Linked DNA regions of Homo sapiens. The protein of the gene in region 1 purifies or fractionates together with the protein of each later gene. This does not show direct contact. Each region holds a gene or a part of one and is shown in the gene's direction. Other genes may lie near its edges.

Region 1 (4,118 bases):
TGCTAGAGGAGAGGGAGTTGCTGGAACCAGGTCCTTAAGAAGGGTGGGAGATGGGATCTGGGGCATGCAGGGTGGAGTTGACCTCACTGCCAGGAGAGAAGGCAGGGAGGTGGGGTTGGGAGCTCTGTGCCGTGGGGATAAGTGAGGACGGGGAAGTGAGTGTCGGAGATTGGAAGAAAGGGGAGAGGTGTGAAGTAGCCGTCTGGGGAAGGGAGAGACAAGGGACTAGGGAAGGATGAGATGCCTGCTGAAAAGCATGAATGACCCACTTAATGTCAGTGGTCTCTAATTTAAAATAAGACCCATCCGCATGGCTGACCGATTTCCTCCAACCCTGATGGACAGCTGCGTGGATGCAGCATGAACCAGATTGGGACTTGGCTTGAACTGAAGGGCTATGGCTTAGCCAAGCAAGGACAACCAAGCAAGAGAGAGGCCAGGGAATCAGGGTGGATGCCCCGGAGTGACTCCAGCGAGTGTGGGTGGAATTGAATCAGAGGAAGGAGAGAAGGAAACGGGCAAAGTGGGTGAAGCCTAGAGAAGTGGTGATGGTATCAATGAGGTGTGGGCTATGGGCATTTGCAGAGTTGTGGGAGCTGGGGAATCAGGCGGAGTAAGCTAGAAAGGAAGAGATTTGAGTCAGAAAGTGGGATGAGTGACACTAAGATAAGACAGATGCTTCTGTCACTGCCAATAGCAACATCTAGGCCCCAGTGCCACCCAGCAGACCTTTCTGCAGTGAAATGGCCTACACCTGGGCTGGACAGTACCACTGGCTATGGTTGGCTGTAGCACTTGAAATGTGGAGCTGTGTTTTAATTTTATTTCATTTAAATTTGGGTAGCACATAGGCTGGTGGGTGTGAGTGGCTGAGGCCAGATGAAGGATGAGGACTTGATGGGGCAGGGTGTTGGAAAGACCCTCTCCCCTCTGGAGGCATTGAAATCACAGAGAAAGTCAGCAGGAGTGCAGTGGAGAGTGGCAAGAGCCGGGCGGAAAGCTTCAAGGATAGGCAGTGGCCGGGGTTACATCGTTGGCTGCAACAGGCAGAACCAAGAGGAACTGTGGGAAGAACCGAGATTCCAGGCTCAGTGTTTTTAGGGAGGAGAGAAGGAAAATGGTCTGGAAGCAGCCATGATTTGCTGTGGGGAGGGAGGAACTTCTCACCTCCAGACGCAGCCGTAGGAAGAGATGCAGCCGCCACCGCCTGAGGACTGAGGGGTCAGTGTCCCCAGGGGAGTGGGGGCCTGCTTAAAGCAAGATGGGGAAGGCCCAGAACAGATGAAGGGCCCACAGGGGTGTGGAGTTGGAGCTTCGTGAAAGAGGGTTGGCTGCTGGGATGTGCTTGTGAGTCCTGCCATTTGTTTTAGTTATTTTTCTACAACCAGCAGCTTCTGGCTTCCTTTCTTCCTGATGTTGATGTTCTCACCTCCCACAATCTGAGACGAGAGGTGGATTTTGCAGGCTCAGAGAGGATCAGCACCCTGCCCGAGGCCCATAGTCAGCAGCCCTTCCCCGGGTCCCCTGGGTTCCCCTACCAACCCCCCAAAGGCTGCTGCCTCCTCCTGGTGCCCTCTGAACCTGTTCTGTGCCCTGCAGGTGTTCGGCGTCCACCTGAACAAGTGGCAGCTGGACAAGAAGCTGGGCTGTGGGTGCCTCCTCCTGTATGGTGTGTTCCTGTGCTTCTCCATCATGACTGAGTTCAACGTGTTCACCTTTGTGAACCTGCCCATGTGCGGGGACCACTGAGCCGCCGGGTGCCCACAGAGGCTCAGCTCCTTCTTTTCTGTGCAATACGAGACCCGGCCGCACCCCGAGTCACACAGGCCCCCGGGGCCACGGCGTTCGTCTCTCCTGTGCTGTCCTCAGGCCTCCGCTCCTGTTTTGGTGGCCCAGGCTCTCCCCTGACCCATCCTCGCTCCCCCACCTCCTTGGGTCATGCCCACCCACCCTTTCCTGCCTCCTCCGTGTGAAGACATCCAACATCCACGTGACTTTTCCAGCTCCATTTTTGAACAGTGACTGAGATTCTAGAAAAACTGGCTGCTAACTGGCCTGAGCCAGGCAACACTGATTCCAATCCCTCCTCCTTTTTTAAGTTATTTGATGGAAGACTCACCTAATTTGTGACCTGAGACTGTTGAAGAAATAGAGAGGAGGGGGCCCGTTGATTACAGAGAGCATTTGGGATTTTGTTTGGTTTGGAGATGATGCCTAGGTTACTGGGTTTGGGGGGATTGTTTTCTTTTGGGGGCCTTCCCCTTTTACTCCTTTTCTTCCAGAGATCAAGAGCTTCTCTTGCATCTTCTTCCACTGGGCTCTGGATTAATCAATTACCCAAAGGCTGCACCTGCCGTGTTGTCTGGGCTTGCATCCCAGATGTGTTGGAGTATGCATGGATGTAGTGCTTTTTAGAGGAGCCACTGGGCAAGGCCACCAAGAACAAATGCATGACATTTTATAGCCAAGGACGCCTCGCTAAAGTCTTATGGGCGTCCCCTGGGGTTGGGGGGGCACAAGGTTTTGGAGGAAGAAGACAACTTCCCTCATTCCATCATCACCATCTCTTTCTCACTAGGTTCTTTCTAGTTTTCAAGCAATAGTTCTAGCCTGCCTTGGACAAGGGGGCCCCAGTTAAACAAACTACCCATCCATGAGCTGCCAGGCAGTCAAAAACAGAAGCTTCCCCGACTTGTGAGTCCCTGAGATGTGCTCTTGTTGTTTGGCATTTGGGGTGACAGGGAGTGACCCAGAGGCCACCACTGCTTTTCATGCAGGAGTTACAGACACTGGTTTCTTGGAAAATGGAGAGAAGCGCACTTTGCACAGACGTCGTCAATTAAGTCCCAATTTGCCACTTGGTATTGAGTACACTGGACCCTGACCACTGGCTCTTGGGCAAACGTCCTTCCTCACGGGGCGCCTCCGCCAAGCCGGCCCAGCTGCACCCCTCCCTTCCTGGAGGGATGGCCAGGGAAGGAGAAAACAGAGAACTGACACCTTTGAAACCACAGAATGTGTTACATGCAGACTCGCTCAAGGGCATAAGTTATTGTGAACGTTTTTGCCAATCACTGCTCAACAGCCCTGCTAGATTTTGTATGATGCTGAATTATTATGCAGACTAATTCCACCCAGTTGAGACACACCATGCTTGTTCACTTGTATTTATTGAAACTGTGGATTCTTGCCCGTGCTGTCCCTTGTATTTACTTTAAGCACTGATCACTTATCATTCATTCGGTATGGTTTTCCCTGTCCCTTGTACACATTCTGGTATGAATTTGTAAAAATAACCTGCTACAAATTGGTTGAATGTTTCTGTCTGTGGTGCGAACCAGCATTAACGGATGGGGCACGTGCCCAACTGAGGAACAGGAGAAGAAATCACCAATTTGGGCTCTCAGAGCTAAGACACACTTATTGATTCTGTTGCACATTTTGCACTGGTTTATGGCGATTGTTTTCTTGGACGGATAGTGTAAAATAAACTTCTCTGTTCTCTATCCTTCCCAGAGCAGAGTGCATTACTTTCTCCCCTGGAAAGCTGTGCATTTTTCATTGAGGAGAATGTATGGGAGGTAAAATGATTGTAGTCACTATGTGGCCAGGCATTTGCCACCTGCTGTTTCTGCGTTGCCTCACCTGGAAAGCTGGCGTACGTGTGGCAGATTACGAGAATGAAGTGGCCAGCTGTGGGTCCCCTCTAAATCTTGAAGGGACTTTAGGCCTATCATCCTGTCACAGAATTCCAGAACTCTACCCGTCCTAGAATACATTAGTTAAGAATTCATTCTTTCCATTGAACATGAGAGAAGGAGCATCACAGTACTGATGATGACATTCTGGAGTGGCCAAGTTCTCCATTCTGTCTGATTTTAGTAGTTCTTAATCGTGAAAATTAAGATTTCCCCAAAGCTGATTCCTTAAAAGTGACAATAACATAGTTGTAATAAGCCATGATCTGATTCTAGGTGATGCTCAAGAAATAACTACCCACATCTAAATTAGTAAACACAGAGAGCTAGGCTTCCACCAGAAATGCAGCATAATTCATTTATAAGAGGCAGAAGAAAAATAGCCACTAATCCACAGCACCAACTTTATTTAACTGTTGA
Region 2 (3,833 bases), on another chromosome or scaffold:
GCCAAACCATTGAGACATTACTCTTCCAGGGGAAGAGGCTGCTAGTTTTATTTAGTTACTGTTAGAACTGTTTAGTTATAATGGTTACTAGTCATCAAAGCTAGTAAAAATTACGTCTATATCTGGGTCTAGATGTTGTTTAATCTCATAAAGGGCAGTTTCATTTCATAGGGAAGATCAGTTCTCCATGGAGGACCTTTCATAATTCAGTCAAGAATCACTGAATATAAATACATTTAAAAAGCAGAATAATTTATTTTCAGAATACATAAATCTACAACTATTGTAGCTTGATTTTGTGCTTTAATACTGCTTTCTATTTTCTCAGCATTCTCACTATTATTTTTTTCCTGAGAGCTCTTAATAGCTGTTTGTGTTTTTCTGGCATCTTTCTCCATATTTGTGGCTGATTGTCAGGTGTGTTTTTCAGCACGATCACTATCACATAAAGAATGTTTGGATGGCATTTTGTAATTTTAACTTTATTAAAGCAGCAATTGTTAACATAATAGCGTAGCTGTCACCAAGACCACTTACAGAAGTTCTAGTATGGTTTATTGTACTGATCATGAAAACGTGTGATTTTATCTACTAGTTTACAGTAGCACTAATTGTAAACACAGTTTATAAGTCACTTGACCAGTTACTTTTGAAAACTTGTTACCTAGACAAATTATTAGTTTAGGGAGATTGTTGTAATTGAGAAGAGCGAGGCTTTATTAATATTTTTAATACTAAAATTTGTCCAAAGTGCTACTACTCTGCCCTTTGGGCAAATACTTTTCCTATTTCCTAACAGTAATTACTACTTTTTATAATATAGCTTTTCAGTGTTGGAGTTGTCAACAGCAGAATCTTTTTCTGCGGGTTTTCATATTAATCATAAAGTTCTTATGTAATTGTTTTCCGCTAAGTTTAAAAAGTTGTTGTTGTTTTTTGAAAATGAGACCTTATTTCTCACTCTTTTCTCATCTTTCATATCCATGGGAATGTTATAAAAATGTAGAACTTAAAGGTTACCCTCTTAGAATTTTCTTGGTGAGAAAACTAAAATAGGGCCAGGTGAATGGCCCAATGTAATTATTGAGTTCAGCAGGTGAAGTTTGGGATTGAAGTTGAGTTCTCTTGTCTTTGTTAATTACATCCGTGTAAAATTGTAGGTTTCAGATCTAAAGTCTAAGGCATCTGTCAAAGGCACATTAGTGGGAAGTTGACCTCATGTGTCCCATGACCCTAGAGCTCTTTTGACAAGAGCTTTACTGGCTTCTGGTCATTTGGGGGAATCACTCTTTTATATCTTTATGGTCAACCTGTCAGTCTCTGGGGTTTTTTTATATGATTATTTTTGAAAACTATTTAATTGAATTTTTTTGTGTTGGTTGGCTTGGCAATGATATAACAACACAGTAAAATAGTAAAAAACTGTCACAGTTTTCTTAGTCACTTAAAAGATAAGCAAGATTTGTGATACCCAGGGGAAGCTTGCAATTTGAGGGGAATGCATATCTTACCATTGGAATGGGTTATCAGTTAATGAACTTGTTAAATCTCTTGCTGAATATGATGGGGCCTGGACGTGTGTTGTAGGTGTGTGTGGTTCTCTTTTTACTCTAGTGGAGAGATGCAGATTCTACACTTTTTCCATTAGGTTTACTAAAGTTTTACAGCTTCCCTATGCATGCTCAGAAGCAGATCATATTATCTTGGTTGTGTATCTTATCTAGCCATTTGTTCTTAAAACAATAAAATGCACTTTTTTAATAAGAAGAAAGTTACTTTATGAAAATTACTAATGTAGATTACTGTTTGATTTTGAAATGTTTGCGTCAAAGTCATTCGAATCAGAGCAAATCCATTTCGAATGGAGGCTGAGTAAAATAAGGCTGAGACCTACCAGGCTGCATTACCAGAAGGTTAGGCATCCTAAGTCACAGGATAAGATGGGAGGTCAGCAAAAGGTACAGGTCACAAAGACCCTGCTGATAAAACAGCATGCGGTAAAGAAGCCAGCCAAAACCCACTGAAACCAAGATGGCGATGAAAGTGACCTCTGTCATCCTCACTGCTCATTATACACTAACTGTAATACATTAGCATGCTAAAAGACATATCCACCAGTGCCATGACAGTTTACAAATGCCATGGCAATGTCAGGAAGTTAGGCTATATGGTCTAAAAAGGGGAGGAACCCTCAGTTCCAGGAATTGTCCCCCCCTTTTCCAGAAAACTCATGAATAATCCACCCCTTGTTTAGCATATAATCAAAAAATAACCATAAGTATGAGAATACTATAAGTATCCTTAGTCCAGCAGCCCAAACTGTTCTACCTATGGAGTAGCCATTCTTTATTCCTTTACTGAATGAACTTGCTTTGGACTCGCCCGGAATTCTTTCTTTTGCAAGATCTAAGAACTCTGTCTTGTAGTCTGGATCAGGACCGTTTTCTGGTAACATTTGTATTCATATTATGTGAGGATAAGACTTTTAAGGGAAATTAGAATTTATTGTCTTCAAAACACTTACGTTGAGTAGTTGTATTAAGTATTGCCTAATTTAATATCTGTACATATATACATATTTAAAATATGTGAACATTTACTTAGTGTATTTCTCTGTTTAGAAGCCTAATTATATTCCGCTTTGGGATGGTGATATATACTTTCCATGCTCTCCTGTTTTCATATACTGTATTCACTTTAAAATAAATCGTTTTGTCCTTGATGCTCTTGTGATTTCTAAGGCATTTCCTCCTGTGTGCTAGTGCATCCTCTTCGTTGAATGTGCTTAACATCTTCGAGCCTGAGCTTGGAGTCAGAGAAACCCAGCTCTCCTCCAGGCCTTGCTGTATCCCAGTCATGTGCCCCTGAGCCTCATGGGAAAATAAGACCCATATCTGCCTCAAAGGCACCCCTAGATCATTTTTGCTTAATATGTGAAAGGGCTCTCTAAACTGCAACTGACAAACAGATGTTAGACATTTTCATTGTAATTAAGTTTTCTAATTTTTTCTTAACTGTTGGAAAGCACAGTTTTGCTTAATGCAAAATATATGGAGGAGATTCTGATTAACTAAAGTTGTGCTTAAAACCATCATCATGTAGACCACTGATTTCTAGATCTTACTAGGGGCAGTAGTTTCTTCAGATCATGACTGAATTTTATTTTTATTTATTTATTTTTTGAGACGGAGTTTTGCTCTTGTTGCCCAGGCTGGAGTGCAATGGCGCAATTTTGGCTCACTGCAACCTCTGCCTCCCAAGTTCAAGCGATTCTCCTGCCTCAGCCTCCCAAGTGTCTGGGATTACAGACATGTGCCACCATGCCCAACTAATTTTTTTTTTTTTTTTTTTTAGTAGAGACGGGGTTTTGCCATGTTGGCCGGGGATGGTTTCGAACCCCTGACCTCAGGTGATCCACCCGCCTCGGCCTCCCAAAGTGCTGGGATTACAGGCGTGAGCCATGGAGCCCGGCCTTCATGACTGAATTTTAAAAGCAATCTTGCTTCTCACTTTGAAACTCAATATCTCTATTAATAGAGTACATTCCTTCTTTTCCAATTCAAAATAGATTTCTTTCCCTATTCAAAATAGAAAACAAATTAAAACTGCCAAACCTACCAAGGCTTTGTAGTTCGGGGAGCAGGAAAATCAAAATGAAAACAAAATTCTCAGAAAATAGCTGTGCAGTCCACCTGGGAGAGTACAAAGCCCAGCGTGTTAGTGATAACAGCTGTAGGTAGCTACTCAAGGTCGTTAAGTGCTAGGGATGGAGACAACCAAAGAGAAAACCCTCTTTTTTTTTTCTTTTTTTTCTTTGAGACGGAGTTTTGCTC
Region 3 (4,569 bases), on another chromosome or scaffold:
CTCCCCTGTTATCCTGGTCTTTCCAGACTTATCTCCCTACAAAAAAGGAGACTGCTTCCGCATTTTCCCATTTCTGTCTTTCTCCGTCAATACTCCACATTCCGTAGCTAGCTGTGTTTGTTTAGACTTGCAACTGTTTCTGTGCAGGGTAAAGACTATCTTGATTTTCAGGATCACTCCACTTCTTCTTCATAGTTTCGTAATCTGAACATCAGGGTGTTGTACAAGATAAACTATAAGCTTCCTTTTGGTTTTAAAATTCTTTGATTTTATGTATTGTAGCCAAACTTCCTCTGCACAGAAAATATACCAGAAAATCAGCCCAAGTTCAATGAAATTCATTTAGTGCCAAAGACCATTCTAAGAATCCTGTGGTTACTACACACACACGCACACACACACCGTCTACTGTTGAGTCAGCTTTAAAGAGTGATGTCTTTTTCCTAACATTCTAGTGTTTTGAAGCTGCTACAAGTGATTGATTTCGAGCTTTTTTTAAAAACTCCTCCTTTGTACAAAACAGAACCGAAATTCTTCAAAACGAATTAAGTCATTTGCGAGTTTGAATGGAAGCTGGACGAAATTGCCTCCTCCAGTTAACGTGGAACCCATTCCCCAAGAGATGGAGGTTCTGGAGAGCAAGGCGAGTCAGCGTCAAACTGATTACGCAGATACCTGTTGGGGACGTCAGTGCTAATAGATATTTTGGTAACATATTTTAAGGACTAACGATGCTTTTTGTGATTCAGGCTTTCATCTGATACCAAGAGCAGAATCTCGTCGGCTTGCGGGTGTTTTTTTTTTTTTTTTTTTTTTTTTTTTTAATGAGCCGGTGCTTTTAAGCGCTGTTACCTACTGGGCCCAAGTAGGCGGTAGAAGAGGGAAAATAAAGCCATTTGTTCCCTCTTCAAGCTAACTGCTCCAGAGAGCTGTGAGTGTGCTCTACTACCGTTGGGAAAACCGAAATTGCGGAGGCCTGAGTCTTTTCAAAATTGAACGGGAAGCGTTTTTAAACTGCCGCAGGGAGAGGCGTTTGCGAGGTGACAGCTGATGACCCCTGGGCTTTTAAGTCCTCCTCCCCTCTCTCGGTCCGCTCTCGGTCCTTAATCGCCTCTGGACTCTGGGCTCTAGTCCCCTCCCCAGATTCACCCATCTGACACCCGCCTCCTGCCCAATCCCCCGGCTCGTCTCCAGGGCTCCCGCGCTCCGCCCATCCCCCTCTGGATGCTTCCTCTCTCTCTCTTCTTTCCCTCCCGCCAGCCACTCCTCGCGTCTTTCTCTCCCCACTTCCCTTCTTTCCCCTCACCCTCCAGCCCAGCCCACCCTGCTTTCTCCCTCTTTCTCTTTCCCGTAGATCCGCGCTCGCGCTGCAACACCTACTCCTCCCTCGGCTCTGGGAGTCGCCAGGCCAGAGGCGCCGCGGACCTGGTGCGCGCAGGCGCACTGCGCGGCTGGCGAACGGGCAGGCCGGGCATCAGCGCAGGCGCGCGCGGCTGGGGCTCGGCTCCGGGGGTGGCGGTCGGACAGTGTCTAGCACGCTCAGTCCGGGCTTGGGGCCCCGCGGCGGAGAAGGAGGTAGAGGGGGCGGCGGCGGCGGCGGCGGTGGTGGCGGCACCATGTTTCTTCACTCAGTTAATCTCTGGAACCTGGCGTTTTATGTCTTCATGGTCTTTCTGGCAACCCTGGGGCTGTGGGATGTCTTCTTCGGCTTCGAGGAGAATAAGTGCAGTATGAGCTACATGTTTGAGTACCCGGAGTATCAGGTAAGGTTCTGCCCTCTCCTCAGCCGGGCGCTCCAAGACTCTGGCCCCTGGTGCCTTTTTCCTTCTGTGGGTTCGTCCTGCCTTGGCTCTCTGCGCCTCTCGGGCCCCCTGTCCCGTCCTCGCCTCTGTTTTCTCCGCCCGGGGAGACTCTGCATCCCCCTTCTGCCCCCCTCACCTCCCCTTTGTGTCCCTTCTTCACGGTGGGGTGTTTGTTAGACGATTTCCCGAGAGCATCCTCGTGGTCGTCCTCGTAGTTACTCCGCTGTCCCTCCGCCTCCTCCCCAGCCCCAAATCCTGGGCACAAGCTCTTCTGACTGGCCGGGCCCAGCCCCCCTCATGCCCAGAGAGGCAGCCTCAACCCTTCTCCCTAAACCGAAGCTCCATCCCTCTCGCGTTCTTGCCTTAACCCGTGCCCCAGGACCTTCCTTTGCTTCCCACGCGCCTAAATTCCCCTCGCGCCCGGTGATCTGCTCGTCAGATTTCGCATTTCTAGAAAGGGACCGAGCGTCTGCAGAGTGTATATTGGCTAGATAGTTCCCAAGGCTGTTTTTAGAGACTCCAGGGTTTTGCCTATGGGTAAACTGGCGAGTCATTGAATTGGAAACTAGATCCCCTCTTGGAAAGATGTTGCAGATCCTCTTATTTTGCAGGTTAAGGGGCCGTGCGTGTGTGGGCTTGCCTGTGTGTGTGCATACCTGTGTTTATGCATGTCTCTCAGCAGCCGAGCCTCTTAATAGTTGCATACAAAATCTATTTCATGGTGCTATTTTTGTTTTCTCGCTGGGTTCGGAGTTTAAGAGAGAGCCAACCCTTCTCTCTCCACCCCTACCGCTTCCATGCCATTTTGAATGTTTTCAATCAATGGCTTCGTTAGTTCGGCATAGTAGGATCTAGAATTTCATTCATGACTAGCTGTAAAAAGAGGCGCAGACAAATTACACAACTGTCCTAAGAGAATTTTTCCGAATGATTCTTTTATTTCTAAGTGCATCTCTTAATTATGGACTACCTATTGTAATAATTCCCTACCATAAAATGTATATGCACTATAACATATATTGATAAAATACATTTTTAGTATACTCTTAAAATCACAGCAGTTTTTTTTTTAGGGTGAAGGATGCAAGTCCTGATTGCTTCTTTGTACAAGTCATTATGGAGGAAGCCTGTTACTTGATTACGCTGCTATTATTTTGATCTTAAGACTACTTAAGGTTTAAATTGCTGAAGAGCATTCTTTCCCATGGGAAAAATTCTAGTAAATTTAGATTTCATTTGTGTTTAGATCCTTACCTTGGTTTTGCATTTATGATGATAAGAGAGTGGAAACATTTGGTAGGGATGCTATCGAAGGAGAAGATTTTGACATGTTACTGTCGTCTCTGTTCATTTCTAAGCAAACCTTTTTAGTTTAGTATTTTAAAAAACTGAAAATAGAGCTATTATAATTCCCTCCTTATTTTTGGTTTAATAATTAGGAAACTCCCAATAGATTGAAGTAGGTCACTTTAGTTTTGTACCGCATTGAAGAGTTTGGTTAAAATCATTTTGTGACAGTACAGTACTAATTCCCATTTATTTTTAGATTTCCTACAATTATTGAAGCTATTTTAATATTCACAGAAGTAGAAATTGTTCTCTTTAGCGTTGGGAACAAAGCATATGGATCTCACAGACGCATTTCCTGCCTCATAAATTGACTGGAAAAACAGAAAATTAGTGTAGCTAATGGTAAAGAGCTCTTTGGGTTTTTATTGTTGTTGAGTAGTCTAGGTTTAGTTATTTTGGTTTAAGTTGCTTTTTTGGGGTTTTACACTTCTATTAATAATTTGCTAATACAGTAATAATCACAGTGGCAGAAGTTTTTGATTTTTAGCAGGTTTTTATGATGTAAAAAGCTGTGTTAATTCATGATAGTATTTATATTGTATTCTTAAGTCTTTTTGTTTTGCATACCAGGTCATGTTATCTTACAAATACAATTAAAACCAGCCTATAGAAATGAGTCATTTTGAACATAGTGAGATTTCTGGATAAATGAGGCCATTCTGTTGAGAACCAAATGGCTTTCATGAATAAAAATGTTTTAAAGATATTTTACATATTGCTTACTTTTAATTATATTTTATAGTCAGCTCTCTAATTGTTCACAGGTTGATACCCAGATGTGAGATGTCCTAGTCATTGGGTTTTCTTCTTTCTTTTGATGCCTTTCTTTTTTTTTACTGCTCATTTGCATCTTCTTTAGTTAGCCAGCAGAAATAGAAAGGTGGTTGAAACACATTCAGTTTTATTATCCATTTTTTTAAAAGATGGGGCATAAATTTGAAACTCTTTGCAAAAATGAAGTTTTGAATTTAAAATTGTTTGATTATCTCTATTCATCTTCTACCTCTGGTTTTCCCAGATTCACTTATTCAGAGTTAATTGAACATCTCACGAACCCATATCTCAAGCCTACTAGGCAAAATATACTTTATCCTTTAAAGCTTCTTGCCCTATTACGACAGCAAGGCAAAACTTTTATTTGGTAGCAAATGGTTTTAGGCAAATTGCAGAATTTTAGAAGAAACGTCTGAGTTGTTTCTCTCATACAGTGATTTGTCTGGCTATCTTCGTATGTGTAACCTAACGGTTGCTCTCTGAAAGGAAATGTTGGCGTGCGTCTATAGTCGCAGGTACTCAGGAGGCTGAGGCTGGAGAATCGCTTGAACCAGGGAGGCGGAGGTTGCAGTGAGCCAAGATTGTGCCATTTCACTCCAGGCGGGGCGACAGTGAGACTCTGTCTCAAAAAAAAAAAAAAGAA
Region 4 (4,401 bases), on another chromosome or scaffold:
TCTGCCTCCTTCCGCCTCCCAAAGTGCTGAGAATACAGGAGTGAGCTACCGCGCCCGGCCTCAAGCTCTAAACTGCAGCAATAATCACTGGTAGTTCCTTTGCACTCAGGTTCCTAAACTTGAAATCCCACCCTTCCCGGACATCCTTGCCCAGATTCCTAACCTTTGAACACAACGTAGGCGTGACTTCCTTTTGGAAAGCCTTTTGCAAGCCTTCTGGGTATGGTTCTGCAACACCCTGTGTATATCTCTATCATAGCACTCAGGAACTGCATTATGTTTATTTGCTTACAGGGCTATCTTTCCCAGTTTTTTTTTTTCTTCTCCATAGAACCACAAAGTCGGATAAGCTGAGTTTCTTGAGGACAAATTCAGTAACTTGTAAATATTTGAATATCCAAGAGTTGTAGAGTACCAAACTGTGGAGCTCAATAAATTTCAGATGAACTAAACTGAATAGTCAGGTGGGATGCTAGATGGATGGGTCAGGAAAAAGAATTTTCTTTTTTCTTGCAAAGTGTTGGGATTACAGGCGTGAGCCACCGCGCTTAGCCAGGAAATATAATTTCTTTCTTTCTTTTTTTTTTTTTTTTGAGACGGGGTCTCATTCTGTCGCCCAGGCTGGAGTGCAGTGGTGCAAACTCGGCTCAAAGCAACCTCCGCATGCGGGTTCAAGCAATTCTCCTGCCTCAGCCTCCCGAATAGCTGGAATTACAGGCGACCGCCACCACACCCGGCTAATTTTTGTATTTTTAGTAGAGACGGGGTTTCACCATATTTGCCAGGCTGGTCTGGAACTCCTGACCTTGTGATCCGCCCGCCTCGGCCTCCCAAAGTGCTGAGATTACAGGCGTGAGCCACCGCGCCTGGCCAGGAAAGATAATTTCCAAGTACGAAATGTTGTAGATTGGGAGGACCTCAGTAGCTTGGGAGAAGTGCACAGTGGTGAGTTATAGGACGGCAATGAGGTCATGGAACTATGAAGTCAAGGTTAACAATAACGCGTGCAGGCAAAACTGAAAAGGGGCGGAACAAGGGGTAGCGGGTCTCCAGGACCTGGCATTAGGACGTGCGTGTTAGGGGGCAGGTATTTGGAGCCAGGCCCCACTTTCGAGTTGTCTTTCCGCAGGAACCAGAGACTGCGGACGGGGCCAGGAACCAGGAACCGTTAGGGAGATAAGGAAGGTGTTATAGCCCACATTCATCCTATACGGCCACAAGGCCGGGGGGCCCAGGCTGCCTCCTCACAGCATCAGCTTTTTCTTCGGCTTCATTTCCCTCTGGAAAGCGCTTTCTCACAGACGCTGCAAAGACCGAAGGGGCAGCCCCTGCCCTGCTACCCTCCAGGGAGCCACCGCTCTAGAGCCCAGGCTCCTCTGGACATCATGTGACTTGGGGGACGACTTGCCTTTCTTCTGAAACACGGCTACAGACTATAACTTTAAAACACGGGGCTTAGCTCCCCCTCAATAACGACACGGCCGTCAGTATTTACCACGTTATTGACCCTCTCCCAGCCGGCCCGCGGCAAGAAGAGTTCCACTTCCTTCCCGGAAAACGCGGCCGGAAGGGGCGGGCTTTCCGCCTGCACCAGGCGCTTCCGCCACCATGGCTTCACGTGGGGTTGTTGGCATTTTCTTCCTCTCTGCTGTCCCCCTTGTGTGTCTGGAGCTCCGGCGTGGGATCCCGGATATAGGTAAGTGTGACTTTTTCCCTTCGACAGTCACAGCTGGGTAATTTTCACAGGAATGTTGCATAGAACGACCGCCTCTTCGGCTGCGTGGCTTCGGAGCAGCTTTGACTACAACTCCCAGACTGCATCGCCCCTGCCCCCCCACTTCCGGAGCTGACTTCACTTCGAGGAACCTTTTCCCTCCAGGTGTGATGGTTTTACGTGTAAGAGGGTAGAGGCAAAGAGCACAGGGGCAATCATAGACAGTGCTTTCGCATCCTGGCGAACACTGAAAAGGAAATAAACAGGTTGATAAGATGAAGGTCTTGTGAGAATTTAGGCTGAGAAGTTTTTTGTTTTGTTTTTAGAGACAGGGTCTCACTATGTTGCCCAGGCTGGTCTCGAACTCCTGGGTTCAAGAGATCCTCCTGCCTCGGCCTCTCAAAGTGCTGGGATTACAGGCCTACGCCACTGCGCCCGGCCCTAGGTTTAAATAAGGGGCCACGCCCGTGAAAAGCCAGTGGGGGCAGGGAAGGGATGGGGGAGGGGAGGAATATTTTAGGCAAAAAGATTGTGACACGTTGGAGGAAAAGGTGAAGGCCATTGTGGCTGAATCAAGGAGAGTTGGGAGGAGGAGGAGGAGGAATTGGCTCAGGATAATGACGTTTATTGAACACCTATTATAAGCCAAACACCAGGTGCTGGTTATTATCTCATTTAATCTGCACTGCAATCAGAGGAGGGTAGGCACTATTATAATCCCCATTTTACAGTTGAGGGAACTAAAATTTAGGGAGGTTAAGTGACTTCCCTAAGTTTTAAAAAGGTCACTCGATTCTGTATGGAGAATGCTTTGGACAGAAGCTATGGTGGAAGCAGTGAGGCACATCAGGCTTTGGAAGTTGACAAGTGGTGATGATGGCCTGGACTAGAACAATAACAGGAGATGAAATGTAGACAGAATTGGGATATTGACGGAGTAGGATCAACCAACAGGCTTTGTTTATGGGTTGATGTTTGGGGCAAGGGAAAGGAAGGATTCAAGGACGACTGCCTCATGGGGGACTGAGCAAACCTAGGTATTTGGTAGTGCTACTGGTAAAGGGGAAATGGAAAGAAAAACTGTGGAGATGCTGAGAATCATGAGTTGATTTTTGGACATTTCAGTGATCAGTTTACATGTCTGTCTCCCTTTTTAAGGTCAATTCTAAAGTTAGAGACCATAATGAAACTTGGCTTTGTGTACTCCCTCTCTTTCTCCACATTTTCTCCCTGCTCACAAGGAGTCAGATGCCTAGAAATGTTGCGTGCAATAAGAAATGAAAATAAAATGCTTTAAAAAAATGTACAAAGACTGTCCTGAAGCTTCTCACTCACTCAAGCTGTGTTGGAATATAACAAGACCTTTATCCAAAGGATCAGAAATGTTGAATTCACACTCACCATTTCCGCAATTCACCTGTTCCCTTGTCTTTTCAACATCCACCCCTACTCTGCTCATTTATTATTTTTTGAGACAAGGTCTTGCTCAGTCACCCAGGCTGCAGTGCAGTGGCACGGTCATGGCTTACTGTAGCCTGGACTTCCCGGCTCAAGTGATCCTCCCACCTCAGCCTTCTGAGTAGCTAGGAATACAGGGGCCACACCACCATGCCTTGCTTATTTTTTGTATTTTTTTGCAGAGATGTGGTTTTGCCATGTTGCCCAGGCTGGTCTGGAACTCCTAGGCTCAAGCAATCCACCCACTTCGGCCACCCAGAGTGCTGGGATTATAGGTGTGAGCCACCGTGCCCAGCCAGAAATATGCTTCTTGAAGGCAGAGACCAAATGGAATTTGTTTTTGTATTCCCAGCACTTACCAGTGTCTAGTTTAATAGAACTAGGGACAAGGGTTCTATAAATTGCACCTGGGCTCCTGGCAGCATCTTTATCTAGTTCTTGAAATTTTCATGGGATTAGCTTCTTTCTCAGAATTCTGAACGAATGATTGTTTCCTTTGGATTGTTTCCTCTTTTCAGTTTTCTTTTTTTAATATATATTTTTTCCTTTTTTTTTCTGCTACCTTTGGATTCTTGATAGTGAGCTTCCAATAATTATTTCTTAACAGTATTTAAGTCTGTTTTATACATCATACTTTATACCAGCAGCAGGGCTGGTTATGCCTATACTGATATTCAGACATATATTGAAAAACTAGCCTTGTCTTTTTCTACTGTGTAAAAACCTTTATTGTCAATACATTTTACTTGTACTTAAGCTAGATTTTTTTTTTCTTTTTTTTTTTTTTGAGACGGAGTCTCACTCTGTCACCCAGGCTGGAGTGCAGTGGTGCAGTCTCAGCTCACTGCAACTTCCGCCTTCTGGGTTCCAGCGATTCTCCTGCCTTAGCCTCCTGAGTAGCTGGGACTACAGGCATGCACCACCATGCCCGACTAATTTTTTTGTATTTTTAGTAGAGGCGGGGTTTCGGTATGTTGTGCCAGGTTGGTCTCCAACTCCTGACCTTGTGATCCACCCGCCTCGGCCTCCCAAAGTGCTGGGATTACAGGCGTGAGCCACCGCGCCCTGACTAAGCTAAATATTTTAAGGCCAGTTCCTCACGTTGAAGTACACTGCTTATGGGGTCTATAGTTTAAGTACACAAAAAAATCCCAGCACTCTGGGAGGCCGAGGCAGGCGAGTCATGAGGTCAAGTAATCGAGACCATCCTGGCCAACATGGTGAAACGC
Region 5 (3,833 bases), on another chromosome or scaffold:
CACACCTGTAATCCCAGCACTTTGGAAGGCTGAGATGGGCGGATCACTTGAGGTCAGGAGTTCCGAGACCAGCTTGGCCAACATGGTGAAACCCCATCTCTACAAAATACAAAAATAGCCGGGCATGGTGGCGCATGCCTATAATCTCAGCTACTCAGGACACTGAGGCGGGAGAATCATTTGAACCTGAGAGCCAGAGGTTACAGTGAGCTGAGATCGCGCCACTACACTCCAGCCTGGGCAACAAAGCGAGACTGTGTCTCAAAAAAAAAAAAAAAAGTATATTTTATGATTTTTTAATTAACCTTCCATAGTCTTAAAAATCATTTTTCACAATTTCATTAAGCCTGACAGCCACTACCAATAACTGCTTTTTAACTTTGTTTTACTGAAATCTTTTCTTAGCTTTGTTACATTGCTTGTTTTCTGATTTAATATATATATTTTTTGTTTTTGGAGGGTATCCTTGAGTAATTCTTTGAGAATGTTTTGAGTCCTTGGATATCTGAAAATAACTTTATTTATTTATTTTAAAATTTTATTTTAGAGATGGGTTTTCACTGTATTGCCCAGGCTGGAGTGCAGTGACTACTCACAGGCACTTTCATAGAACACTACAGGCTTTAACGCCTAGCCTCAAGTGGTCCTCCCACCTCAGTCTCCCAAGTAGCTGGGAATACCAGTGCATGCTACCACACCTGGCAAATGGCTTTATTTTTGCTTTCATGTCAGTAAATATCTTTTTACTTGGGAACATTGACTACATGGCTCCATTATTTTTTTCCATCTAATGTTATATGTAAGAATTCTGATGCTAATCCCAATTCTTGTATTTTGCAGTTCTCTACTACTTCTGCTACTTCTCTTTGATAGAAGATTGTACTTTTTAAATCCTTTGGAAAACTCCATATTTTATGGTCTTTTTTCATTTATCCTGCTTCACATTTATTAGATCCTTTCTGTCTGAAGATTTTCATCTTTTGAAACAGGAATTTTTCTTCTTTGTGGGTTTTTTGTTTTTGTTTGACGTGGAGTCTCACTCATTCTTTTGCCCAGGCTGAAGTACGGTGGCATGATCTCTGCTCACTGCAACCTCCGCCTCCTGGGTTCAAGCAGTTCTCCTGCCTCGGCTTCCCAAGTAGCTGGGATTACAGGTGTGTGCCACCATGGCTGGCTCATTTTTTTATTTTTAGTAGAGATGGGGTTTTGCCATGTTGGCCAGGCTGGTCTCAAACTCCTGACCTCAAGTGAACCACCCGCCTCGGCCTCCCAAAGTGCTGGGATTACAGGCATGAGCCACCGCACCCAGCCTATAGATTTTAATTGTTACATGTCTTCTTCATTTCATTGGGATTTAAAGAAGAAAATTATGTACATTTAGCCAGCCATTTGAAACCAGTTCTGTTGAACAATAAAAGCACAGGAGTAGGTAATTTTTTATATCATCACATTAAAACTACCATGAAAAATAAAATGGAGTGTTAAGAAAAAGAGTAGCCATTGAGTTAGGTTTTTTTTTTTTTCAGTTAAAAGGCTGTACTATATAGTGTTCCAAATAGATTCTTTTTAAAATTTTAGCAAACACTATAAATACAGAAGAGAAAACGCAGGGAAAGAGGAAGACAGGAAGAGAAGTTTGCAGACAGATCTACAGGGAAAACACTGAGACACTTTAATTTGTATAGGATGATAAAAAGATGCATTTATTAAATATTTGCATCTGTGACAAAAAATCAAAATATGGATAATAACATTGTTAGGACCAGTACCCTTGGAGTTATAAAAATAGTGAACAAAATTTTCATCCATCTTATCATCTATGTTGGATATGCCACATAGGTGTCCATAAAGGTACCTACAAGTTTATGCTAAGTGAATCCTACAAAAAGATGCTTAGATTCCAGAGAACGTCTCATAAGTGCCAAAGAGGATAGGTGTGCAATCTGTAGTAATACAAGAGAGAGTGTGAGAGAACTGGACAGGAGGATTCAGAGGAGATTTCAAAGGACTTGACCCATTTATGCAGGAGGTTGCAATTTTTTGAATTGCAAAATGAGACCTTGGCAATGACCTTGAGCAGTAGGATATAAATAACTCCTACATGCTTAGTGTTCCACTAATGGAACACAAGGCATAAATGGGTTAAACTGGCTCTTAAAGAATGAATACAATTGGATGAGTACCTATTCAGGAGAATGGAACAGAAATAGAGGCAACACAGCATACTTATTAAAAATTATTCTAGAGGCAGATTGCTGAGTTCAAATTTTGACCATGTCACTTATTTGCTGTATCACTTTGGTTTATTTTTTACTTATTTTTTTTAATGTGGCCTAGATGAATTAATGCTGTGTCACTTTGGAAAAATGATTTCTCTGTGCCTCAGTTTTTGTTGTTTTTTTACTAAAATGAGAATAATAGGACCTACCTTTTAGAGTTGTTATAAGGAATAAATTAATCCACATAAAGCATTTAAGACAATTTATGGCATCAACTATAATTGTTAGTTGCCATGATTATCATCATCATCTTCATAGAAGGACATTTTGGAATTACAAATGGATAGATTGTATTCATTGGCTAGTAAATGAACCGGCCTGCTTCGAATACACAATTCATACTGGGAAGTAGTAGAAGAATGTGTTGAAGTCAGTTGGAGTCCACACCATGGTGGTCTTGAATTCCAGGCTAAGAAACAGTTAATTATTATTCTTTTATTGAAGAGGAAACAAAAAAGTTATATACAATGTCTGAAATTGCCTAAGTCTTTTTTTGGGGGGGCAGGGGAGGCAGGGGGGGCGGGGTACCGAGTCTCACTGTCGCCCAGGCTGGAGTGCAGTGGCACAATCTCGGCTCACTGCAACGTCCACCTCCTGGGTTCAAGCGATTCTCCCGCCTCAGCCTCCTGAGTAGCTGGGATTTTTCTATTTTTAGTAGAGACAGGGTTACACCATGTTGGTCAGGCTGGTCTCGAACTCCTGACCTCATGATCCACCTGCCTCGGCCTCCCAAAGTGCTGGGATTACAGGCGTGAGCCACCGCGCCCTGCCAATTGCCTAAGTTTTAACTAAAACGCCCAGCATTTGAACTGCTCTTTGTGTTTCCGTCCATTCTACAGGGATTCTGAATGAAACCACTATTTTAGGAAGATTTATTTCAGTAATATCCATAAGGCCTAAATTTAGGTGATGGTGAGAGAAATGGGTAAGGAAGGGACAAGTTCCAAAAATGAATGGAATTGAACTAGATGATCTTTTGGTTCTTTTCTAGCTCAGACATCACTGATGACTTTCTTACCTCTCTAGCTTAGATAATCTTTACATCATATGATCTACTGTATATAATTTTTTATTTCCAGAATTTGTAATATATGTTTTTCTCATGTATGCTTTTCTACAGGTTTTAGATGGAGCAGGATTAGATATTGATTTCCATCTTGCCTCTCCAGAAGGCAAAACCTTAGTTTTTGAACAAAGAAAATCAGATGGAGTTCACACGTAAGTAATCTCTTTTAGTTGAGTTTCATTGCTGAATAATACCAGTGGGTTATCTGCAGGGCATGGAAAGTTAGCACATTTGATACTACATATCAATATTAGATAATTCCATATGATTTAAAACAGTTCATGATAGTGTGCCATCTGATAAACAAAAACATCTTCCATTAACCTTTCTATTTTTGTTTAAGCGTTTTCTTTTGATCCAGGCTAAATTTTTTCTGTGCTTTGGTTAGTAAATTAGTATTCCCCTGGTATTCCATTCAATCTATCGTGGCATTTTAAACCTGCCTTCTGGCCAGCACAAGCTTTCTATTTTAACTTAAAGCTACTGTT
Region 6 (3,833 bases), on another chromosome or scaffold:
AAACTCAATGTGCAAAAATCACAAGTATACCTATACACCAATGACAGACAAATGGAGAGCCAAATCATGAGTAAACACCCATTCATAATTGCTACAAAGAGAATAAAATACCTAGGAATCCAACTTACAAGGGATATGAAGGACCTCTTCAAGGAAAACTACAAACCACTGCTCAATGAAATAAAAGAAGATACAAACAAATGGAAGAACATTCCATGCTCATGGGTAGGAAGAATCAATATCGTGAAAATGGCCATACTGCCCAAGGTAATTTATAGATTCAATGCCATCCCCATCAAGCTACCAAAGACTTTCTTCACAGAATTGGAAAAAACTACTTTAAAGTTCATATGGAACCAAAAAAGAGCCCGCATTGCCAAGTCAATCCTAAACCAAAAGAACAAAACTGGAGGCATCAGGCTACCTGACTTCAAACTATACTACAAGGCTACAGTAACCAAAACAGCATGGTACTGGCACCAAAACAGAGATAGAGACCAATGGAACAGAACAGAGCCCTCAGAAACAATGCTGCATATCTACAACTATCTGATCTTTGACAAACCTGACAAAAACAAGAAATGGGGAAAGGATTCCCTATTTAATAAATGGTGCTGGGAAAACTGGCTAGCCATATGGAGAAAGCTGAAACTGGATCCCTTCCTTACACCTTATACAAAAATCAATTCAAGATGGATTAAAGACTTACACGTTAGACCTAAAACCATAAAAACCCTAGAAGAAAACCTAGGCAATACCATTCAGGACACAGGCATGGGGAAGGACTTCATGTCTAAAACACCAAAAGCAATGGCAACAAAAGCCAAAATTGACAAATGGGATCTAATTAAACTAAAGAGCTTCTGCACAGCAAAAGAAACCACCATCAGAGTAAACAGGCAACCTACAGAATGGGAGAAAATTTTTGCAACCTACTCATCTGACAAAGGGCTAATATCCAGAATCTACAATGAACTCAAACAAATTTACAAGAAAAAAACAAACAACCCCATCAAAAAGTGGGCTAAGGATATGAACAGACACTTCTCAAAAGAAGACATTTATGCAGCCAAAAAACACATGAAAAAATGCTCATCATCACTGGCCATCAGAGAAATGCAAATCAAAACCACAATGAGATACCATCTCACACCAGTTAGAATGGCAATCATTAAAAAGTCAGGAAACAACAGATGCTGGAGAGGATGTGGAGAAATAGGAACACTTTTACACTGTTGGTGGGACTGTAAACTAGTTCAACCATTGTGGAAGTTGGTGTGGCGATTCCTCAGGGATCTAGAGCTAGAAATACCATTTGACCCAGCCATCCCATTACTGGGTATATACCCAAAGGATTATAAATCATGCTGCTATAAAGACATATGTTTATTGTGGCACTAGTCACAATGGCAAAGACTTGGAACCAACCCAAATGTCCAACAATGATGGACTGGATAAAGAAAATGTGGCACATATACACCATGGAATACTATGCAACCATAAAAAATGAGTTCATGTCCTTTGTAGGGACATGGATGAAGCTGGAAACCATCATTCTCAGCAAACTATCGCAAGGACAAAAAACCAAACACCGCATGTTCTCACTCATAGGTGGGAATTGAACAATGAGAACACATGGACACAGGAAGGGGAACATCACACACCGGGGCCTGTTGTGGAGTGGGGGGAGGGGGGAGGGATAGCATTAGGAGATATACGTAATGCTAAATGACGAGTTAATGCGTGCAGCACACCAACATGGCACATGTATACATATGTAACAAGCCTGCACGTTATGCACACGTATCCTAAAACTTAAAATATAATAATAATTAAAAAAAAGAAAAAAAAACAATATATCAGATGGCTAACTGACCTTGCTTGCCAGCTAAGGGTTTCACTTCTACATACCAAACTTACTGAGTGTGATTCAAATCCAAGCCCTAGAATTATTTCCTAAGCATTATCCATGTCAAATACAATAAATATTATATTAGGCACAAAAGGCAAGATTTAGAGGGATATTTTATCTGAAATCATTGCTCCCTCTCAAAGTGACATGAAATAGTTATTCAGAAATGTTTACATATCACATATAGACAAAATTCTTCAAACTAGTGTTTGAAATGATGATTAAGCCAGTTTATAAATCAAAAACAAATCAACAAATTCAAGCTATTGTAAGTTCTTTTAAAATTTAGCTTTAAACTCTATGTAGGCTTATCCTTATGTATTTTCTCCATGGAATTTTCCTGCCGAAATAACTCAAAAGGTAATGAGCTTGGTTTCATTTCTGACATTTTACTATTTTAACCTTTCAAAATTTTATGAAAAAGAATCAAAGCTTCAGTGGATTTAACATATGCTCTCAAAAATATCTTAGCAAAAGTAATAGTACTAAATGTAATTACCAAATTCTGGTGTGGCTCAAAATTCAGTTTGAATTGCCATATGGAATCAGGATTCTGAACAGGGCCACTTTGAAATCAAACTTAGAAATGTTAAACACTATAAAAATAAAAGCCTCTGCTTATATGAATGACTAAGCAATATTAATGATACTATGAAAACCATATCCAATCAAAGTGATAATGGAATTTCTTTCAAAAAGCAATTCAGCTTTTGGACAAGTCTTTGAAGCTCTCTGGAACAATCGCATCTGCTCTCTTTATTAATACTCCAAATCTCACAAAGGTTTGAGGTATCTTGCAAAAAAATACATATAATGAAAGAACAAAATAGAAATAAAATAAAATGCAAAACCAAGGAAAATATGAATCAGAATATGAAGTCACAGCTAAAAATTTAAAAAGAGAATGCCCATACATAATCTACAAGATCCTACTAAGTTGCTGTAGTTAATTTAAGCAGTGAATTTGTTCTTGAGCTTTCTGGTAGTAAAGTGAAAAGGAAAATATAGTTTCATAGGACTCGTTGTTCAAAAGGAAGAATGAATTAGAAAAAGTTATCTAAAGCAAATACATTTATGACTTTTTTTTTTTTTTTTTTGAGACCATGTCTTGCTCTGTTGCCCAGGCTGGAGTGCAGTGGCAAGATCTTGGCTCACTGCAACCTCCGCCTCCCGGGTTCAAGCGCGTCTCCTGTCTCAACCTCCCAAGTAGCTGCGACTACAGGCGCATGCCACGACGCCTGGCTAATTTTTGTATTTTTAGTACAGACGGGGTATCACGATATTGGTCAGGCGGGTCTTGAACTCCTGACCTCAGGTGATCTGCCCGCCTCGACCTCCCAAAGTGTTGAGATTACAGGCATGAGCCACCACGCCTGGCCCATTTATGATTTTTAAAAAGTTATTTCTTGTCATGTTTCTCCATGCAAGTTGAGAGGATAAAGCAAAAGCAATATGCACAATGAATCAGCAAAGGGCTCATTATTAAATGTTTACTGAATGCCTAGAATGTTAAATAGGGATAATAATATTTAGTTACTTTCCTCCGAGTTCTAAGATGGTTTTCTGTGATTAAAATATAACATTTAATTTGCATATAAAGGAGAAAGAATCGAGTAGCCTTAGAGAACTACTAAATCTTTAAGATGTCAAATTCAATTACATTCTTTAGAAGTGTAATATTTCCTGAAGAGAAAAAGAGCTAAATATAGACTCTGGAGGAAAGATGCAATTTATGAATTAAACCCAAGAGATTCTCAGAAAATCGTGTAGCCATTTTAAAGTTAACAAACTTGACCTTTAGTGGTGATTGGCTTTTTGGTTTTGATAATATATGCCTTTTATTTGGTACCATCTAAGCCTCGATCAAAGACTGATTGTCTGAAAAAAGGAAACTAAGAGTTTACTTTGGTCATATTCATGT
Region 7 (3,833 bases), on another chromosome or scaffold:
AAGGTAATGGCCTAATGACCACCCTATTATAAATGCTATGATTTTTATTTATTTTATTTAGTTATTTAGTTATTTTTTTTTTGAGACAGTCTTGCTCTGTTGCCAGGCTGTAGTGCAGTGGCGCAATCTCAGCTCACTGCAACCTCCACCTCCCAGGCTCAAGCAATTCTCCTTCCTCGGCCTCCTGAGTAGGTGAGACTACAGGCGCGTGCCACCATGCCCAGCTAACTTTTTCTTTTTTTTTTGAGACAGAGTCTTGCTCTGTCGCCCAGGCTGGAGTGCAATGGTGCCGTCTTGGCTCACTGCAACCTCCGTCTCCCAGGTTCAAGTGATTCTCCTGCCTCAGCCTCCTGAGTAGCCGGGACTACAGATGCAAGCCACCATACCCAGCTAATTTTTGTATTTTTAGTGGAGACAGGGTTTCGCTGTGTTGGCCAGGCTGGTCTTGAACTCCTGACCTTGTGATCCACCCGCCTCGGCCTCCCAAAGTGCTGGGATTACAGGCATGTCCACAGCGCCTGGCCCGCCCAACTAACTTCTGTATTTTTTTTTTTTTTTTTTTTTTTTCTGAGATGGAGTCTCGCTCTGTCGCCCAGGCTGGAGTGCAGTGGCACAATCTCGGCTCACTGCAACCTCCGCCTCCTGAGTTCAAGTGATTCTTCTGCCTCAGCCTCCCAAGCAGCTGGGATTATAGGCGCCCACCACATGCCTGGCTAATTTTTGTATTTTTAGTAGAGACAGGGTTTCACCATCTCGACCAGGCTGGTCTTGAACTCCTGACCTCGTGATCCACCCACCTCGACCTCCCAAAGTGCTGGGGTTACAGGCATGAGCCACCAGGCCCGGCCTAACTTTTGTATTTTTAGTAGAGACGGGGTTTCACCATGTTGGCCAAGATGGTCTCAATCTCTTGACCTCGTGATCCACCCGCCTCGGCCTCCCAAAGTGCTGGGATTATAGGTGTGAGCCACCGTGCCCAGCCTGTTTTTTGTTTTTTTTGAGACTGAGTCTTGCTCTATCACCCAGGCTGGGGTGCAGTGGCATGATCTTGGTTCACTGCAACCTCCGCCTCCTGAGTTCAAGCGATTCTCCTGCTTCAACCTCCTGAGTAGCTGGGATTACAGGCTCCCACCACCATGCCTGGCTAATTTTTGTATTTTTAGTAGAGACGAGGTTTCACCATGTTGGCCAGGCTGGTCTCGAACTCCTGACCTCAAATGATCCGCCCCTTGTGACCTCCCAAAATGCTGGGATTACAGGCATGAGCCACTGTGCCCAGCCTTTTGTTGTTTTTTTAAAATATATATATAAAAAGAGATGGGGTCTTGCTATGTTGACCAGGCTGGTCTTGAACTCCTGCTCTCAAGCCATCCTCCCATCTTGGCCTTCCAAAGTGCTGGGATTACAGGCATGAGCCACTGTGCCCGGTCAAATGCTGTGATTTTTTTTTTTTTTCCAGGGGGTACAGGGTCTTACTCTGCCACCCAGTCTGGAGTGCAGTGCCGTGTTCTCTGCTTCCCACCGGCTAATTGTTGTACTTTTTTAGTAGAGACAGGGTTTCGCCATGTTGGCCTGGCTGGACTCGAACTCCTGGCCTCAAGTGATCTGCCTACCTCAGCCTCCCAAAGTACTGGAATTGCAGACATGAGCCACCATGCCCAGCCTAGACTTTCTTTTAAGTTGTTACAAATTTCCACCTACTAACTAATGAAGAAATAAAATAATGAACTATTTTGATGTTGAAACTATTTTAAACCTTTGATTGTCAGTGTGACAGAGGCCACTTTTACCAGTATAACTGGCTACTACTCTCAACTAGTGAAGCCTGGCCTTGAGTATGTGTCCTGTGCAACTGTACCAGTGGGCTACACACTATATATCTGGCCTTGGAATTTCTTCTAGACTCACATCCAAACAACATCCTGTGTTGTGCAGAGATTTGTTATAAGGGATTTCAGAGAAAGAAGTGATTGAGAAAACAAAAAAATTAAGTAAAAAATCTGATACCACAAAGTGCTAGATATAAATATATTCCATATTGATATGAAAAGAACCATACACTGTTGAAGAAATTGGTTGGGGTAGGGGTTTAAAACTGAGCAGTGGGGACCTGATTCTAAAAGAATTGGGGCAAGCAAGAAACGAGGAAAGCAAGGTCTTGGGTCAGTATGGAACAAACAGGAATGGTATCTTGAGTGGTCTGAGACTTCTCTTAGCTAATGAGTGTCCTTGTGCAGGATTTGGCTGTCATTCTTAAGTTTAAACTAAGTCCATAATGTGACTAAACTGCATTGGATATGTTAAGTACAGACAACTCTGATCACCTCTTTCTGTTTTTGGTAGGTATCTACCTTAGATGGAGTTTTAGAAGTCCGAAATGAACATTTTTGGACCCTAGGTTTTGGCTCATTGGTATGTTCTTTTACATATGACTTTAGTTATAATTTAAAATATAGTCTTCCATTTTTAAAACTGAAAAAAAATATTTCCTTAAAATTTTTATAGAGCCTTTGATTCCTAGTTATGTTAAGCAGAGTCTAAAATGTACATGAATTCAATTACCTAATTGAGGGATTTTTTGGTGTTTAGAGACAGGGTCTCACTCTGTTGCCCAGGCTGGTGTTGAACTCCTGGCCTCAAGCAGTCCTCCCGCCTTAATCTCCCAAACAATAGAGGAATGTTTTTATTTTTTTTCCATCAAACATGTTAATGATAATAATACAGGAGTGTCCAGATAAGACAAATTTGTAGTCAGTGTAATTTCCAAATAAGAAAATGTTAAAAAAAATTAAAAGTGCAATTGCTTTCTTTTTTAACTGTAGTTCTCATTTTGGAGAGTTTGCTGAATATTTTGAAGAACTACAGTAACACAACTTGCTTCAGCATAAAATTTCGTATTTTCTAATTCAGTTTGAACCTCAATACCAGAGAGACTTTATTATGACACGGTTTTACTCGTACGTTAGGAATGATGAGGAAAATACAGAAAATGTAAAGCACTATAATCTTATCATCTAAAGAAAACTGCTGTTGATATTTTGGTGTTTATACATTTATTTTCCTTAGAAAATGAGATCACGGGCTGGGCGTGGTAGCTCACGCCTGTAATACCAGCACTTTGGGAAGCCGAGGCGGGCAGATCACCTGAGGTTGAGAGTTTGAGACCAACTTGGCTAACATGGTGAAACCCCATCTCTGCTAAAAATACAAAATTAGCTGGGCGTGGGGTGTGGCACACGCCTGTAATTCCAGTTACTCGGGAGGCTGAGGCAGGAGAATCTCTTGAACCCGGGAGGCAGAGGTTGCAGTGAGCCGAGATCACGCCATTGCACTCTAGCCTGGGTGACAGAGTGAGACTCTGTCTCCAAAAAAAAAAAAAAAAAAAAAAACAACAGAAAATGAGATCATGCTGTTTTATAATTAGCTCTTTTTGTTTAATTAATTTATCATGAACAGTTTTCTATGTCATTAAATACTCTTCTACAGTATCATTAAAAAAAACAGATAGGGTTTGATTTTTCTAATATAACACAAATTTTATAGATAAACAGATCAAAGCTGGTCTAGCAGTTCAATGATATTACCCACTTTGCAGTCTTTAGTTTCAGGCTATGCTTTTGTAGTGGGAAAATGGTTGCTTCACCTCCACCTTCCCCAACTCTTTCCCTCTCTCATTATTTTGGATGTCTAAAACTTATTACAAGAAAAACTTGAGACTGTAACATCCCCTCCCTCCTTACTGGGAAGGTGCCAAATGACCAGAGTGTCAAGAGACCAAAGAATGACTTGGACAGGTCCAGCATGGCCAGTAGGTGAGTTTGTTAGGAGTTACC

Evidence for each region.
Region 2: the proteins of SLC24A3 (region 1) and DPY19L1 purify together in Homo sapiens (affinity purification with mass spectrometry; one large-scale study listed by BioGRID and IntAct). This does not show direct contact.
Region 3: the proteins of SLC24A3 (region 1) and PGAP1 purify together in Homo sapiens (affinity purification with mass spectrometry; one large-scale study listed by BioGRID and IntAct). This does not show direct contact.
Region 4: the proteins of SLC24A3 (region 1) and UBXN8 purify together in Homo sapiens (affinity purification with mass spectrometry; one large-scale study listed by BioGRID and IntAct). This does not show direct contact.
Region 5: the proteins of SLC24A3 (region 1) and TMED5 purify together in Homo sapiens (affinity purification with mass spectrometry; one large-scale study listed by BioGRID and IntAct). This does not show direct contact.
Region 6: the proteins of SLC24A3 (region 1) and FAR2 purify together in Homo sapiens (affinity purification with mass spectrometry; one large-scale study listed by BioGRID and IntAct). This does not show direct contact.
Region 7: the proteins of SLC24A3 (region 1) and SLC30A6 purify together in Homo sapiens (affinity purification with mass spectrometry; one large-scale study listed by BioGRID and IntAct). This does not show direct contact.

What each region holds. Positions count from the first base shown.
Region 1 is NC_000020.11:19,719,392-19,723,509, forward strand, and holds the end of SLC24A3 (sodium/potassium/calcium exchanger 3 precursor), read left to right. Parts: intron 1-1,599; coding exon 1,600-1,749; 3' UTR 1,750-3,535; downstream 3,536-4,118. UniProt on the Homo sapiens protein: Calcium, potassium:sodium antiporter that transports 1 Ca(2+) and 1 K(+) in exchange for 4 Na(+).
Region 2 is NC_000007.14:35,027,188-35,031,020, reverse strand, and holds part of DPY19L1 (protein C-mannosyl-transferase DPY19L1), read left to right. Parts: intron 1-3,833. UniProt on the Homo sapiens protein: C-mannosyltransferase that mediates the C-mannosylation tryptophan residues on target proteins.
Region 3 is NC_000002.12:196,923,664-196,928,232, reverse strand, and holds the start of PGAP1 (GPI inositol-deacylase), read left to right. Parts: upstream 1-1,525; 5' UTR 1,526-1,616; coding exon 1,617-1,763; intron 1,764-4,569.
Region 4 is NC_000008.11:30,742,582-30,746,982, forward strand, and holds the start of UBXN8 (UBX domain-containing protein 8), read left to right. Parts: upstream 1-1,582; 5' UTR 1,583-1,608; coding exon 1,609-1,696; intron 1,697-1,746; coding exon of another isoform or gene 1,747-1,879; intron 1,880-4,401. UniProt on the Homo sapiens protein: Involved in endoplasmic reticulum-associated degradation (ERAD) for misfolded lumenal proteins, possibly by tethering VCP to the endoplasmic reticulum membrane. May play a role in reproduction.
Region 5 is NC_000001.11:93,159,793-93,163,625, reverse strand, and holds part of TMED5 (transmembrane emp24 domain-containing protein 5 isoform 1 precursor), read left to right. Parts: intron 1-3,399; coding exon 3,400-3,497; intron 3,498-3,833. UniProt on the Homo sapiens protein: Potential role in vesicular protein trafficking, mainly in the early secretory pathway. Required for the maintenance of the Golgi apparatus; involved in protein exchange between Golgi stacks during assembly.
Region 6 is NC_000012.12:29,327,066-29,330,898, forward strand, and holds part of FAR2 (fatty acyl-CoA reductase 2), read left to right. Parts: intron 1-3,833. UniProt on the Homo sapiens protein: Catalyzes the reduction of saturated but not unsaturated C16 or C18 fatty acyl-CoA to fatty alcohols (FAls). A lower activity can be observed with shorter fatty acyl-CoA substrates.
Region 7 is NC_000002.12:32,207,150-32,210,982, forward strand, and holds part of SLC30A6 (zinc transporter 6), read left to right. Parts: intron 1-2,343; coding exon 2,344-2,412; intron 2,413-3,747; coding exon of another isoform or gene 3,748-3,812; intron 3,813-3,833. UniProt on the Homo sapiens protein: Has probably no intrinsic transporter activity but together with SLC30A5 forms a functional zinc ion:proton antiporter heterodimer, mediating zinc entry into the lumen of organelles along the secretory pathway.